Homo sapiens: one gene and its partners. The protein of the gene in region 1 purifies or fractionates together with the protein of each later gene. This does not show direct contact. Each region holds a gene or a part of one and is shown in the gene's direction. Other genes may lie near its edges.

The links.
Region 2: the proteins of GLI2 (region 1) and ZNF521 purify together in Homo sapiens (affinity purification with western blotting, with the first as the bait; one study listed by BioGRID). This does not show direct contact.
Region 3: the proteins of GLI2 (region 1) and CPNE2 purify together in Homo sapiens (co-immunoprecipitation; one large-scale study listed by IntAct). This does not show direct contact.

What each region holds. Positions count from the first base shown.
Region 1 is NC_000002.12:120,734,505-120,738,806, forward strand, and holds the start of GLI2 (zinc finger protein GLI2), read left to right. Parts: upstream 1-1,363; 5' UTR 1,364-1,781; intron 1,782-2,056; exon of another isoform or gene 2,057-3,157; intron 3,158-4,302. UniProt on the Homo sapiens protein: Functions as a transcription regulator in the hedgehog (Hh) pathway. Functions as a transcriptional activator. May also function as transcriptional repressor. Requires STK36 for full transcriptional activator activity.
Region 2 is NC_000018.10:25,065,600-25,069,245, reverse strand, and holds part of ZNF521 (zinc finger protein 521), read left to right. Parts: intron 1-3,646. UniProt on the Homo sapiens protein: Transcription factor that can both act as an activator or a repressor depending on the context. Involved in BMP signaling and in the regulation of the immature compartment of the hematopoietic system.
Region 3 is NC_000016.10:57,099,079-57,102,724, forward strand, and holds part of CPNE2 (copine-2), read left to right. Parts: intron 1-3,646.

The sequences.
Region 1 (4,302 bases):
CGCGCGCTACTATCCCTGGCTAATTTTTTGTATTTTTAGTAGAGACGGGGTTTCACCATGTTGGCCAGGCTGGTCTTGAACTCCTGACCTCAGGTGATCCCCGTGCCTCGGCCTCCCAAAGTGCTAGGATTACAAGCGTGAGCCACCGCGCCCGGCCCAACAGGGCAAATTTAACTGAACTTACAGTACAACCACCCGAAGCTCTGGGAGGATGGCAGAGTGCTCTGACCTTAGACTAGTTACTTAACTTTTTAAAGCATCAGACTTCCCACCTGTAAAAACACGAGAAGAGAACCTTCCTTACAGAGCTGTGAAAGTCCAATAATACAAAGAAAATATAACATCACCTGGCACTTGGTAGAGTGTTCTACAAACGTTAGGAAGAATAAAACCAGAAATTCCCCCCAAGACCCTCTTCGGGTGAGGCCCAGGGGCCCTGGAGAGGGTGGCAGGCCCGGGGGTGTGGGGAGGACACTTTAGCCAGCTGCCCCCAATTCTCCTCCAAGCCTGGCGGCCCAGTTCCGGGCTGTGGTGTGGCTTGAGGGCCCAGGGCTCCTCACTGAGCTTGCTTAAGCAAGTTCTTTCACACACAGCCCCATATACACTTTGGCTAGAAAATTCAATGAGGAGTTTTTTCTTCCTTCTTTCTCTGTTGTTGTTGGGTTCTGATTACTTCCATCTGGCTTCAGCGGCTCGAGTGGAGTCTCTAAAACACACAACACAACAAAACAAAAACCCACCCTGCAAGCCACATGCACCAAACCTAGAAGGCTGCTTCGTTTCTCGCCAGCGTGTGCTCAGATGGCGACGAGGGCTAGCGGCGGCGGGGGACGCCTCAGGACCCCCGGCACCTGCGCTCGCTGCCCGCGGGAAGAGGGTCCGCGTGGACCCAGCCCCCGCGTCCCTTCTCTGGCGTCCCCGGCTTCCGCGCGGGCGTCCAGAGAAGCGGGCGCCCTGGGAACAGCGACCCAGGCATCTCCCCGAGGAGGGAAGTGGGAGGTGGGGAGGGCGGGGGGATTTCAGAGATTGAAAACAGAGCAGCCCTTGCCCCTCAGCTCCGGAGCTCATCTGACTTGAGTTAGCGACACCCCCAACCCCCCCCCCCACACCTAGTCGTCTAAAAAAAGTGTCGGAGATTGGCGCGTCCTTTGGTTCCTTTCTCGAACTTTCCTTGTAGGTGCGTTTTCTTTCCTTGGTGCTGGGTGGGGAGAGTCCCTGTGCTCCCCCTTTCCCCTCCCCCCGCCCCGGCGGCGTTCGGGTCCCCCTGCGTCCCCCGGCAGGGAGCGGGCGGGCTGGCTGGCGGGTTCTTGGGGCCCGGGTGTGCCCGCACCGTGCGCGCGGGGGCGCTGCGCAGTCCGGCGGCGCTGATGGATTGCAGAAGTGCCGGCGCTTGCCAGCCGAGGCAGCACGGCTCCGCGGACTTTTTTTCAAACTCCCATCAATGAGACTTCGAGGAGGAGCGGGCGGCGGCGGCGGCTGCGACTGCGAACGCGGAGGAAGGCCAGGAGCCGCAGGAGGAGCCGGAGGAAAGAGCTTGGGCCGCGCGGCGCGCCGCAGCCTCGGGGAGCCGCCTGCTCGCCGGCGGTAGGGGCTGCGCGGCGCCCGCCCGCCTCTCGGTCCCCTCTCTTGCCTGGCCCGCCCCGCCCCGGCTGGCTGGAGCCCCGGCACAAGGCAGCCAGCCGAGGGTCGCCGCGCCAGCCAAGGTGGGATGGGGGCCCACAGCCACCGCCCGGCGCCCGAGAGGCCACCTGCGTGCTAGAGGCAAACTTTTGTCTCTCTCGGTAAAGTTGCATTGGCCTTCTTTTGCTTGCTTTTCGTGACGAAGCGCCTCCCACCTCGGCCAAGCGCGGGCCGACTGGGATGCTGCGCCGTCTCGGGGGGTCCCTCGGCCGGGTACCGGCGCCTAGGCCTTGGGATCGGGGCCCTGGGCTTCGGGGGACTAGAGGCTAGTAGGCGCGACCCCGCCTGGGGCTCTGGACGAGCAGGGCGGGGACGTAAGGAGAGTCCTGGGGCTTGGAGCTCGTGGCCAGAGGTCGATGTTGCACCCTCTCCCTACCTGGGGGAGAGCACCACTCTTCTCGGGGTGCACAGCGAGCCGGCCTCCGCGCGCCGGCGGGGGTCTGTTTTTTCAGGGGGTGGAGGGTGGGATCGGAGGCTGGGATGCTCCGAAGCTGCCGTAGGTGGGCATGGGAGCGTGTCTGCGGGCGTACTGAGCGCGGAGGGGCTGCAGCCAGCCACTTGAGAACTTCGAACTCCACTTCTCCGCGCTGCGCGTCCCGGAGCCCTGCCTTTCTTTCTTCCTTCCTCAATCCTTCCTCCCCCTCGCCCGGCCCGGCCGCCCCCTCCCCCTCTGCTGGGCTCTCCTCCTCGGCCCCCCCTCTTTGCCTCTCTTCTCCTCCTCTCCTGCCCTCGGCCCTGAGATCCGCTTGACTTCCCAAAGGGATCCGCACGTAATCCTTTGCCGGGTCCTCCGGTTCCCCCTTCCACCTCACTTTCATCCCTGCCCCCCTACTCATCGTCTCTCCCCACCCCCGACAATCTCTCAACAAGTATATTTGCTGAGGAATTTGAAAAATCCACTACTGCAACTTGATCTGTATGTGATGGATGGGGAGAGGCGCGGAGAGAGTTGGGCGCCAATCCTATTAAGGGTTTAGAGAGGGGAGTCTTTTCCCCGGACGGGGCGGGGGCGGGGAGCTGGGAGGGAGCGTGTGCTTGCGTGTGTGAGTGTGAGCGCGCCCGCCGCGCTGGAGAGCTGGGAGTCCACCCAGCTCGGCGCCTTTTCAGCCCGGCGGTAACTGCTGTCATTTCCTAGGAAACCCGACTTTTACCGCGCGGGGAGCTGGGGATGGAGCCCGTGCGCCTCACCCTGGGTGATCGGTCGCTGAGGCTCTCGGGGACCTCGAGCCCCCCCGAGGGTGCCTCTTTCCACTACCTTCTCTTTTGTGTAATTGTTCTGTGGCTCCTAGAGTTGATCCCAGCTGGAAAAGTAGACCTGTCCCTACTGTCTGGTCCCGCGCCCTGGGAGTCTTGTAGGCGTCCCTCTGTCCCCCAGCCCGGGCATCCCGCTCGGTGCGCGACCTCTGGCACGGGCTTTGCAGCTCGGTGGCCGCAGCGGTGTCCCGGGCCCCCTCTCCGCCGCTCTTGCCGGGCGTGTGAAGGTTTAATCCCGACAGCTTCAGATAAAGGGAGCAGTTGTAAAACGCTCATAGGCTGTTTGCAGACGAGGCTCTGGGGGATGTAGGAGAATTTGAAAGTAAACGTTTCCCTCGCAAGCAGCATAAAATAGTGTTTAAACAAATATTGTATTGGCATGCTCAGGGGGCTCGGTGCCAAAAAGTAAAGTAAATAAACTGTGAAATCCAAAATATACAGCGGGGAAAGCGGAGGAATAGGCGGGTTTGTCACAGGCCTCCCTGATGAGACCAGTTTGTTCCAGCCACCTCACCTGCCAGCTTTCTCTCCGCCCATTTCCTTACCTTGCTGGGAGTTCCCTTGGCTGGGTTTCCCTGTGTCTGGGGACAGGCCCTCCCTGGGGCCTGGGAACGGCTTTGCAGTTGCTTGTTTAGGGGGAAGCTCACGGTGTGGCTACCTGGGCCTGACTCCACAGGGACGGGGGGCACCTTGGCTATGCCTGGCTGCTTTGAGTTTGGAGGCTCTTTATTTAGGCTTTTCCCAGCTTCTGGTCTGTCCTGGGGCAGTCATTCTAGAATGTGGAATCCAGATCCATCAGGGGCCTTCTCTTCTTTTTGACTATGCTTCTTGTGCCTCTTTCTTCATCGTTCTTGCTTTTGTTTTCCTAGACTTGCTGCTTCTCTCTTGAGGGTTACAGGAAATTGTGGAGATGTTTTTCCCTGGGATTCGAATTCCACTCAAGCCCAGCCATATGGAAAGTTGTCGCTTGTCTGATGAGTTTTAAAGTTAATTATATTTGGTAAGATTTAGGGTGGTTTTATTTTCTCCTCTGCTTCGAGAAATATGCCAGTTTCACGAAATTGTTTCGTGATTTTAGGGGATTTAAGCTAATACAGGGAAGATCCTGCATTTGAAAGAGCCCAGCTGCCCAGGAGGTATCCCTCAGGTGAACCAGCCTTCAGTTGGGCTAGCATCTGAGTGAGAGACTGTGGTCAGAACGGTCTATTTGCAAAGCCTCTTGGAGAGAATTAGAATTATAGGTAGAAAGAATTAGAATGATAGTAGAAAGAGCCTCCCAAGCCACCGAGGAACAAGGTAAGACTGCTAGAGATGGTTTTATCCTCTGTGGGAATCGATTTGACTGAATTTGCAGTGGGTTCAGATTCC
Region 2 (3,646 bases), on another chromosome or scaffold:
AACTATTTTACTAGCATAAGAAGTTGGGAATGAAAAGGAGAGAGGATGGAAATGTAAAAATCTTGATTAGAAAGTATAATTTAATAGAATATGTATTGAACCAAATATATTGATTAATGTAGAAGATATAGTACTTATATTGATTCGAACCAGAGATTTAGTACTAAAAGCTCTAAGCCAAAAAGCTGTTGCAGATTGCTACAAAAGTCAGTTTAATGCTGTCCTTGAGAATGCCTTCACAAAGAAATTCTTCTAATGTTTGAGGACTAGGTAGAATGCGGTATATGTCAGTCTGATCCCGGAGGGTTTTATTTTGTACTCTAATAGCTGTTAGGAGCCTACATTATATCCAAGGAGTAATTTTCCTTAGGGGTGCCCAGCTCGCTTTGTGTCAATATTCTAGCATTTTAAGTCACGTACAGTATATGCTTCTGGGAACGGGGAAGGAGCCAGCCAGACTCATAATGGTCTGCATTCATTAATAAAGGCAGAAGCTTCTGTCCCTCCATTGCCCACTACAGGGATGCCTCTTTGGCCTTCAGGGACCCGTACAGACACATTTAAAGAAAGCTTTATTTTGAGTGGGCAGGAGATGAAATGTAGGACTTGCAGGCATTTCCTAAGTCAGCTATATGCCCGAGCACAGGGGTGACCTTAATGGGTCAAAGAAGAATGCAGGTCAAAAGACTTATTATCCAGCCTGTGGGAAACCAATTGCTTTTGTTTAAAAAAAAAAATTAAAAATGAAAAAAAGCAATAGTGCTTAAAGGTGGACGGTAATGTAGAATTCTGTTTGCAGCCTGTAACTGCACGACTGTATGTGAACTAGAATATACTTCCAGAAAAATAAGAGCATACCGATTATCCTCAGTGTTTATGGATAAAGGTCCAACCCAAGTGATAAAAGGAAGGGTAATATAATTAGTTAATCAGTGATGATTGATTACGGATGTTTGTGTTCTTCAACTAAAGAAAAAACAACATGCTGCCATGGTGCTGTCACCATCTGTTGAAAGAAACAGCCACATTTAATCTTTATATTTCTTTATTTCTTCCCACCTTGCATTGTTTCTGAGCCACAATTGCCTACTATTTCATCTAGTTAGAAAACATCTCATTTAAATTAAATACAACTGCAGTTTAAATTCGGGTTTCTAATGGCATAGTGAATTAGTGGTGGAAAGCTTGTTATTTTTTTTCATTCCTTTTTAAAATAGCGTGCTGGCTCTTTTACTTAGTTTTAAAAGCTTGTCAGAATTTGTTTGAAACAAAAGGCTATAAATAAACAAGTCATGGTAAAAATGATTAACATCTTTGAATCAACAGATTTCACAAAACTTCCATTCAAATGCCATTTTTGTTTTTATGACCACTGATACGTAACATTTTGCCGATGCCAACAGAGTGTTACAAAGCACAGACGAGACACGGTCTCTGCCAAAGAATTAGAAAAGTGAAGGCAATCTCTGGGCATAAGTTTTGGGGTTGGGAATTTAATTTTTCAACTCTAGGAAGATAGGTTCCCCCTGGCTTTCCTCCAAAGCTGAATTTCATCATTGATGTAGGTGCAAAAATTCAAATTTACATCAAGATTGCAGGAAAATGGAATGTCTTTAGCCAAGGTGAACAGTTTCAAAGGATCATGGATTTTTATTTTTACTTAAAAATATTTTTCTTGGATTGCATTTTAAATAGGATTAAACTGTTTGACCAGCAAATGTGGTCAGCTCTCAGAAAAAAAGGAGGCTGAATTAATCATTTGTTAGAGTGCCAAGCCCAAAATGAGAATTCCAGTCTTGTAAAATGAAAGGCATCTCATATTTAAAAAGAAATACATAGTGCTAGAAGGGAATTTTTAAGGCCCTCGTCTGTTTTTTAGCTTTCTAAGTTTAATTTCACATTTATAGAGAAAAAAAATACATACAGCACACTCCTTCCAGATGGGGCCCTTTACAGTAAAGAAAGTGTTTTTGAAACCTCGCTATTAAGGTATCATACCTAGATGGATCTTCTTTTCAGCTTTAAGGTATGTTGTGGATTTGATTTTTTTTTAACACAAACCCCCCTCGTGTAAAACAACTGTTCATAACTGGGATTAATGGTTTGCAATTTTCAGTTACTTAGACATGGGGTCTCCAGGAGATGGCTTTTTGCAGAGTAGAATATGGCTCTCTGTGGGATTACAGAAGTTTTCTTCTCTTCCTACTTCCTTTTCTGTCTTCACCCCCCACCTCCACCAATGTTGCACTGATGTTCTTCTCAATTATGTAAAACACTTTCCCTTCATTGGAACAGATATTTTTTCTCATAACCTGTCATTGCATTAAAGTACTTTAGGGACTGTGAATTGCTGTGTAAAATTGGTGAGATTACCCACTGCTTTGTTCTAGTGTAGTGGTTTCCTCTGGACCTAAAGAGCTGAAAACTCTTGCACAGAGAGAAGGCTGCTTGTGGATGGCCTGGCAGCATTTTTCCGCTTTCTGCTCATATGCATTTGTGTCCTTGCTGTCTCAGGACTGGTTCTGTGGTGTGGCAAGTAGCCAGGGGGAGAGCAGACTGGGCCTCAGAGCCTACCCTCTCTTTGCTTGGCGCTTCTGCTGTCTACTTTTTTATCCTTCCCACTTGCCTCTTGTCTCCCTTTCTAAAGAAATAATGTCTATGAGCATCAGAAAACACAAAAAACACTGAGTGCTCCCATGAAGCTCTATTCAGAGAATCTTTAGTCGAGACCAGAGACTAGGACTTCGCATCTGTTCTCACCAACACCTAAAAGCCAATCGAATAAACCATGGCTCAGATATTCCATTCCTTCCCCCAGAGAATGAAATGAGGCCATTTGTATTTCCAGTGGACTTGAAATACTGCGTGGGGGAGGAGAACAGACACATCCCCCGGATCCTCAAAGGTGGCAAAGGCAAGCCCTTGAGGATGGAGCAGAATCCCATGGCGGGGTTGTTTCCAACACAAGTATATCCATTGCCCAAGAAGCTCTAGGAACGTGCTGCCTTCCACCATGAGCATCACTGCCAATGGTGGACAGCCAGGCCTGGGGACACCCTGCCATAGCACTCTGTTGGGCTGGAGCAAAAAAGGGAAACCAAACAAAATGAGAATAAGAGACCTCCGTGGTCTGCAGGCATCTCCACACCAAGAGGACTTCCTGCCCTTACATTTCTCATGCCAGATTTCTTAGGTTGATATTACTTACATTGGGTTGCTTTATTTTTGAATTTCACAAGCCATACCCTTGCCCTTCTCACAAGTGATTTATATTCCTCTCTCTTATATGCAAAACATAACTCCTTTATGAAACAACTTCAGTCTGTTGTAGTAAGTGATGTATGTGTATTTGTTCATGTCCTTGCACCTCTGAAGAGACTTGTATGGCTTTGATTGAGGATGAAAGCATACAACACACAACCATTGCCAACTGTTATGGGCAGTTTGTTTTGGGTTCTTGTAGCATCTTGATATGAGCACATATAAAAACACCAGGAAAATTGCACTGTGTACTCTTTTACTAACCCCTAGAATCCAATCACATGTGGAGTGTCCATCATAAGCACTTAAACATTTGAAAATAATGTAATTAAACTGTTTTTTTTTTTTATTTGGTAAGAAGAAAAAAACACCCATCTTTCTGTCA
Region 3 (3,646 bases), on another chromosome or scaffold:
GCACCAAAGCCCCCGGTGTCCCCTTCTTGTCAGTAACACCCGTCCACGTGTCCTACTGCTATCCTGACTTCCAGCAGCATAGATTTGTTTTGTCCATGTTTAAGGGCACCTAAGTGAAATCATATAGGATGACATACTCCTTTCTCTCTGGCCCCCTTCACACAGCACGTGTGAGACCCATCCGTGTTATTGCTACCTGTGTTCTTCCTTCAAGTTGGCTGTATGTGGTCTGCTGTGTGTTCATTCACCAGTTATGTCTCCCTTCTTCCAATCATGGGGGTTTGGGTGGGGAGTTCCAGTTGGGATTATTTGGATTAGCACTGCCATGAACATTCCTGTGTGTATCTTTGGGTGAACATACGTGAGTGTTTTCGTTGGGCACTAATGTTTCTCCTAAGTGGTTGCACCAATTTCCACTCCCTCTGGCAACCTGTGTGTGTTCCAGTTGCTCTGCATTATTGCCAACACATGGTATGGTCAGCTTTTTAAAATTTTGGCCGTCCTGGGGGTGGGGGTGGGTGCATAGTGCTTTTTTTTTTAAGACAGTTTCATTCTGTTGCCCTGGCTGGAGTGCAGTGGCGCGATCTCAGCTTGCTGCAACTTCCACACCCCACCCCCATTCAAGTGATTCTCCTGCCTTAGCCTGCTGAGTAGCTGGGATTACAGGCATCCGCCACCATGTCCGGCTAATTTTTGATTTTTTTTTTTTTTTTTTTTTGAGACGGAGTTTTGCTGTTGCCAGGCTGGAGTGCAGTGGTGCGATCTCGGCTCACTGCAACCTCTGCCTCCTGGATTCAAGCGATTCTCCTGCCTCAGCCTCCCGAATAGCTGGGACTACAGGCGCGTGCACCACGCCCAGCTAATTTTTGTATTTTTAGTAGAGATGGGGTTTCACCATGCTAGCCGGGATGGTCTTGATCTCTTGACCTTGTGATCCACCTGCCTCGGCCTCTCAAAGTGCTGGGATTGCAGGTGTGAGCCACCATGCCCTGCCTAGTTTTTGTGTTTTTAGTGGGGATGGGGTTTCACAATGTTGGCTGGGTCTCGAACTCCTGACCTCAAGTGATCCGCCCACCTCAGCCTCCAAAAGTGCTGGGATTACAGGCATGAGTCACCATGCCCGGCTGCATTTGGTTTTACTGAGCTGAGTTTGAAGAAAGAAATCACTAAGTGAAGAAGGGGGAAGGGCATTCCAGGCAGATGGAACAGCATATGCAGAATTAGGGAGGCACGAAAAATACTTGCTGAAACTGTGTGTGGCAAACAGCAGAGCTAGAGCCAAAAGTGTGAGGGAGGGGACTTTGAGAGCTTCATCAGGGAACCTGGATGTTGTCCTGAGAACAGCCGAAAGCCATGGAGAGGTTTTTCTCATTTTGAGCCAGTATCTGCAGTGCGTCAAGCATTTTGTAATTTCCATGTGTTGGATGAGAAAACTAAACTGAGACACAGAAGGACCAATGACTTGTCCAGAGTCACATTAGTGGAGGCCCAATAGGTAGAGTGGTATTGGGCTGGGAGCCAGAGGACCAGAACCATGTGGGTAAGTGATTCAACTTCCTAGCCTTGGTTTACTCACCTGGAGAATGGGAGTGCTGATGATAACACCTCATTTGGGGATGTTGTGAAGCTATAGAATTTCAAGGACCTGGGACAGGCATTATTATTCTCATTTTATTATGGTTATCTCTCCATCAGCATGGCCACACCCACCTTCACCCTTCTCTTGCAGCTGACAGGGTGGGGGTGGGCTCTCTGAGCTCCCACACTTAAGAAGGGCTAGCCCAGAGCTCCTGCCCTAACACCCTGTTTTCCTGCCCCATGACAGATCTCCTAGGAACTAAAGATTGCTATGATGGTTAATTTTATGTGTCAGCTTGGCAAGGCTTTGGTGACCAGTTGTTTGGTCAAATAAAGGTAGTTTTTAGATGCAGTTAACATTAAATCAGTAGACTTTTGAGTCCAGCAGCTTACCCTCCATTATGTGTGGCCCTCATTCAATTGATCAGAGGCCTTCAGGGCAAAGACTAAGGTTTCTCAAAGACGGAATTCAGCCCCAAGACTGCAGCATAGAAACCCTGCCTGGGTTTCCAGCCTTCTGGCTTGCCCTACAGATTTTGGACTTTCCAGCCCCGACAATCGCATGAGCTAATTCTTGAAAATACATTTCTCTCTCTGCATAGATAGATATCCTATTGGTTCTGTTTCTCCAGAAAACCTGGACTAATATGGTTGCCATTTATCTTCCTGGATCTTCTCATCTGGGAAATGGGATGAAGGAGGCAATTTAGACCTGGATGCATTCAAGATACGTTCCAACCCCCCAAAAGTTCAGTAAACTTAGCAGCCATCAGGGCCCGTAGGGAATGGGTGTCTTGTTAGCTGAGGGTTCTGGTTAACAGAGCATTCTCATCCAGACTAGAGGTTGCAAACTCAGAAGTCTACAGAGACCTGGCTGGAAGCTCGGTGTGTGAAGCCAGCAGGGCTTGTATGGAGACCAAGTGTGACACCTGCCTCATTATGCCAAATCCAACTACACTAGAGCCATCCCTGGGGTGTGGTCAGCCATGGGGTGGCCACATTGCAACTTCTGATCTGTAGCCTCGTGTCTCAAAGTGTGGTTCCAGGGGGGCAGCCCCAGCATCAGCTGTAGCTTGTTAGAAACACAGAATTTTAGGCCCCTCCCCAGACCTGCTGGATGACAATCTGTATTTGAACAAGATGCCCCACGTACTCAGCTAACCTGTGATTTGTGTATACTTAGCCCACATCAGAACCACCAGCAGAGCATGTTAAAACACAGGCCTACGGGCACCACTCTAGGCCTTCTGCTAGAGCAGGTCTGGGTGGGCCCAGCGTGCTGCATTTCTTTTTCTTTTTTTTTTTTTTGAGACAGGGTCTCACTCTGTTGCCCAGCCTGGAGTGCAGTGGCATGATCACGGCTCACTGCAGCCTTGACTTCCCGGGCTTAGGTGATTCCCCCCATCTCAGCCTCCCAAGTACCTGGGACTACAGGCACATGCCACCATGCCCAGCTAATTTTTTTTTGCCATTTTTTGTAGAGACAGGGTTTCACTATGTTGCCCAGCTGGGCTTAAATTCCTGAGCTCGAGATCCACCTGCCTCGGCCTCCCAAAGTGCGGGGATAACAGGAGTGAGCCACCGCACCCGCTTGGTGCTGCATTTCTAGCAGGCTCCGGGGAGATGCGTAGGTGACCCATCTGGAAACCACACGTGGTGACAGCTCTGAGCCACCACAGGAGCCTCTGCTATCAGAGATGAGACCCCACTGCCAGGATATGCTGGGTGCAGAAGGACTTGGAGGCCCTGAGGGTCCCAGAAGCCACAGCACCCAGGAGTGGGCCCCACCTCGAAGACCTTGAGGGCTGTGTATCCAAGCCCATAATTCAATCCCTAGTCCCCCGTCACTACCATGGTCTCTCTGGGCTTCCCTATGCTGTGTCCACCAGCCTGGAGGGAGAGCCTAGAGCCGTGTTTCTCAATCAGTTTTTTGTTTTTATTTATTTCTCTTTTTTTTTTTTTTGAGAGAGGGTCTCCCTGTGTTGCCCAGGCTGGAGTGCAGTGGCACGATCTCAGCTCATTGCAACCTCCACTTCCCAGGTTCAAGCAATTCTTTTGCCTCAGCCTC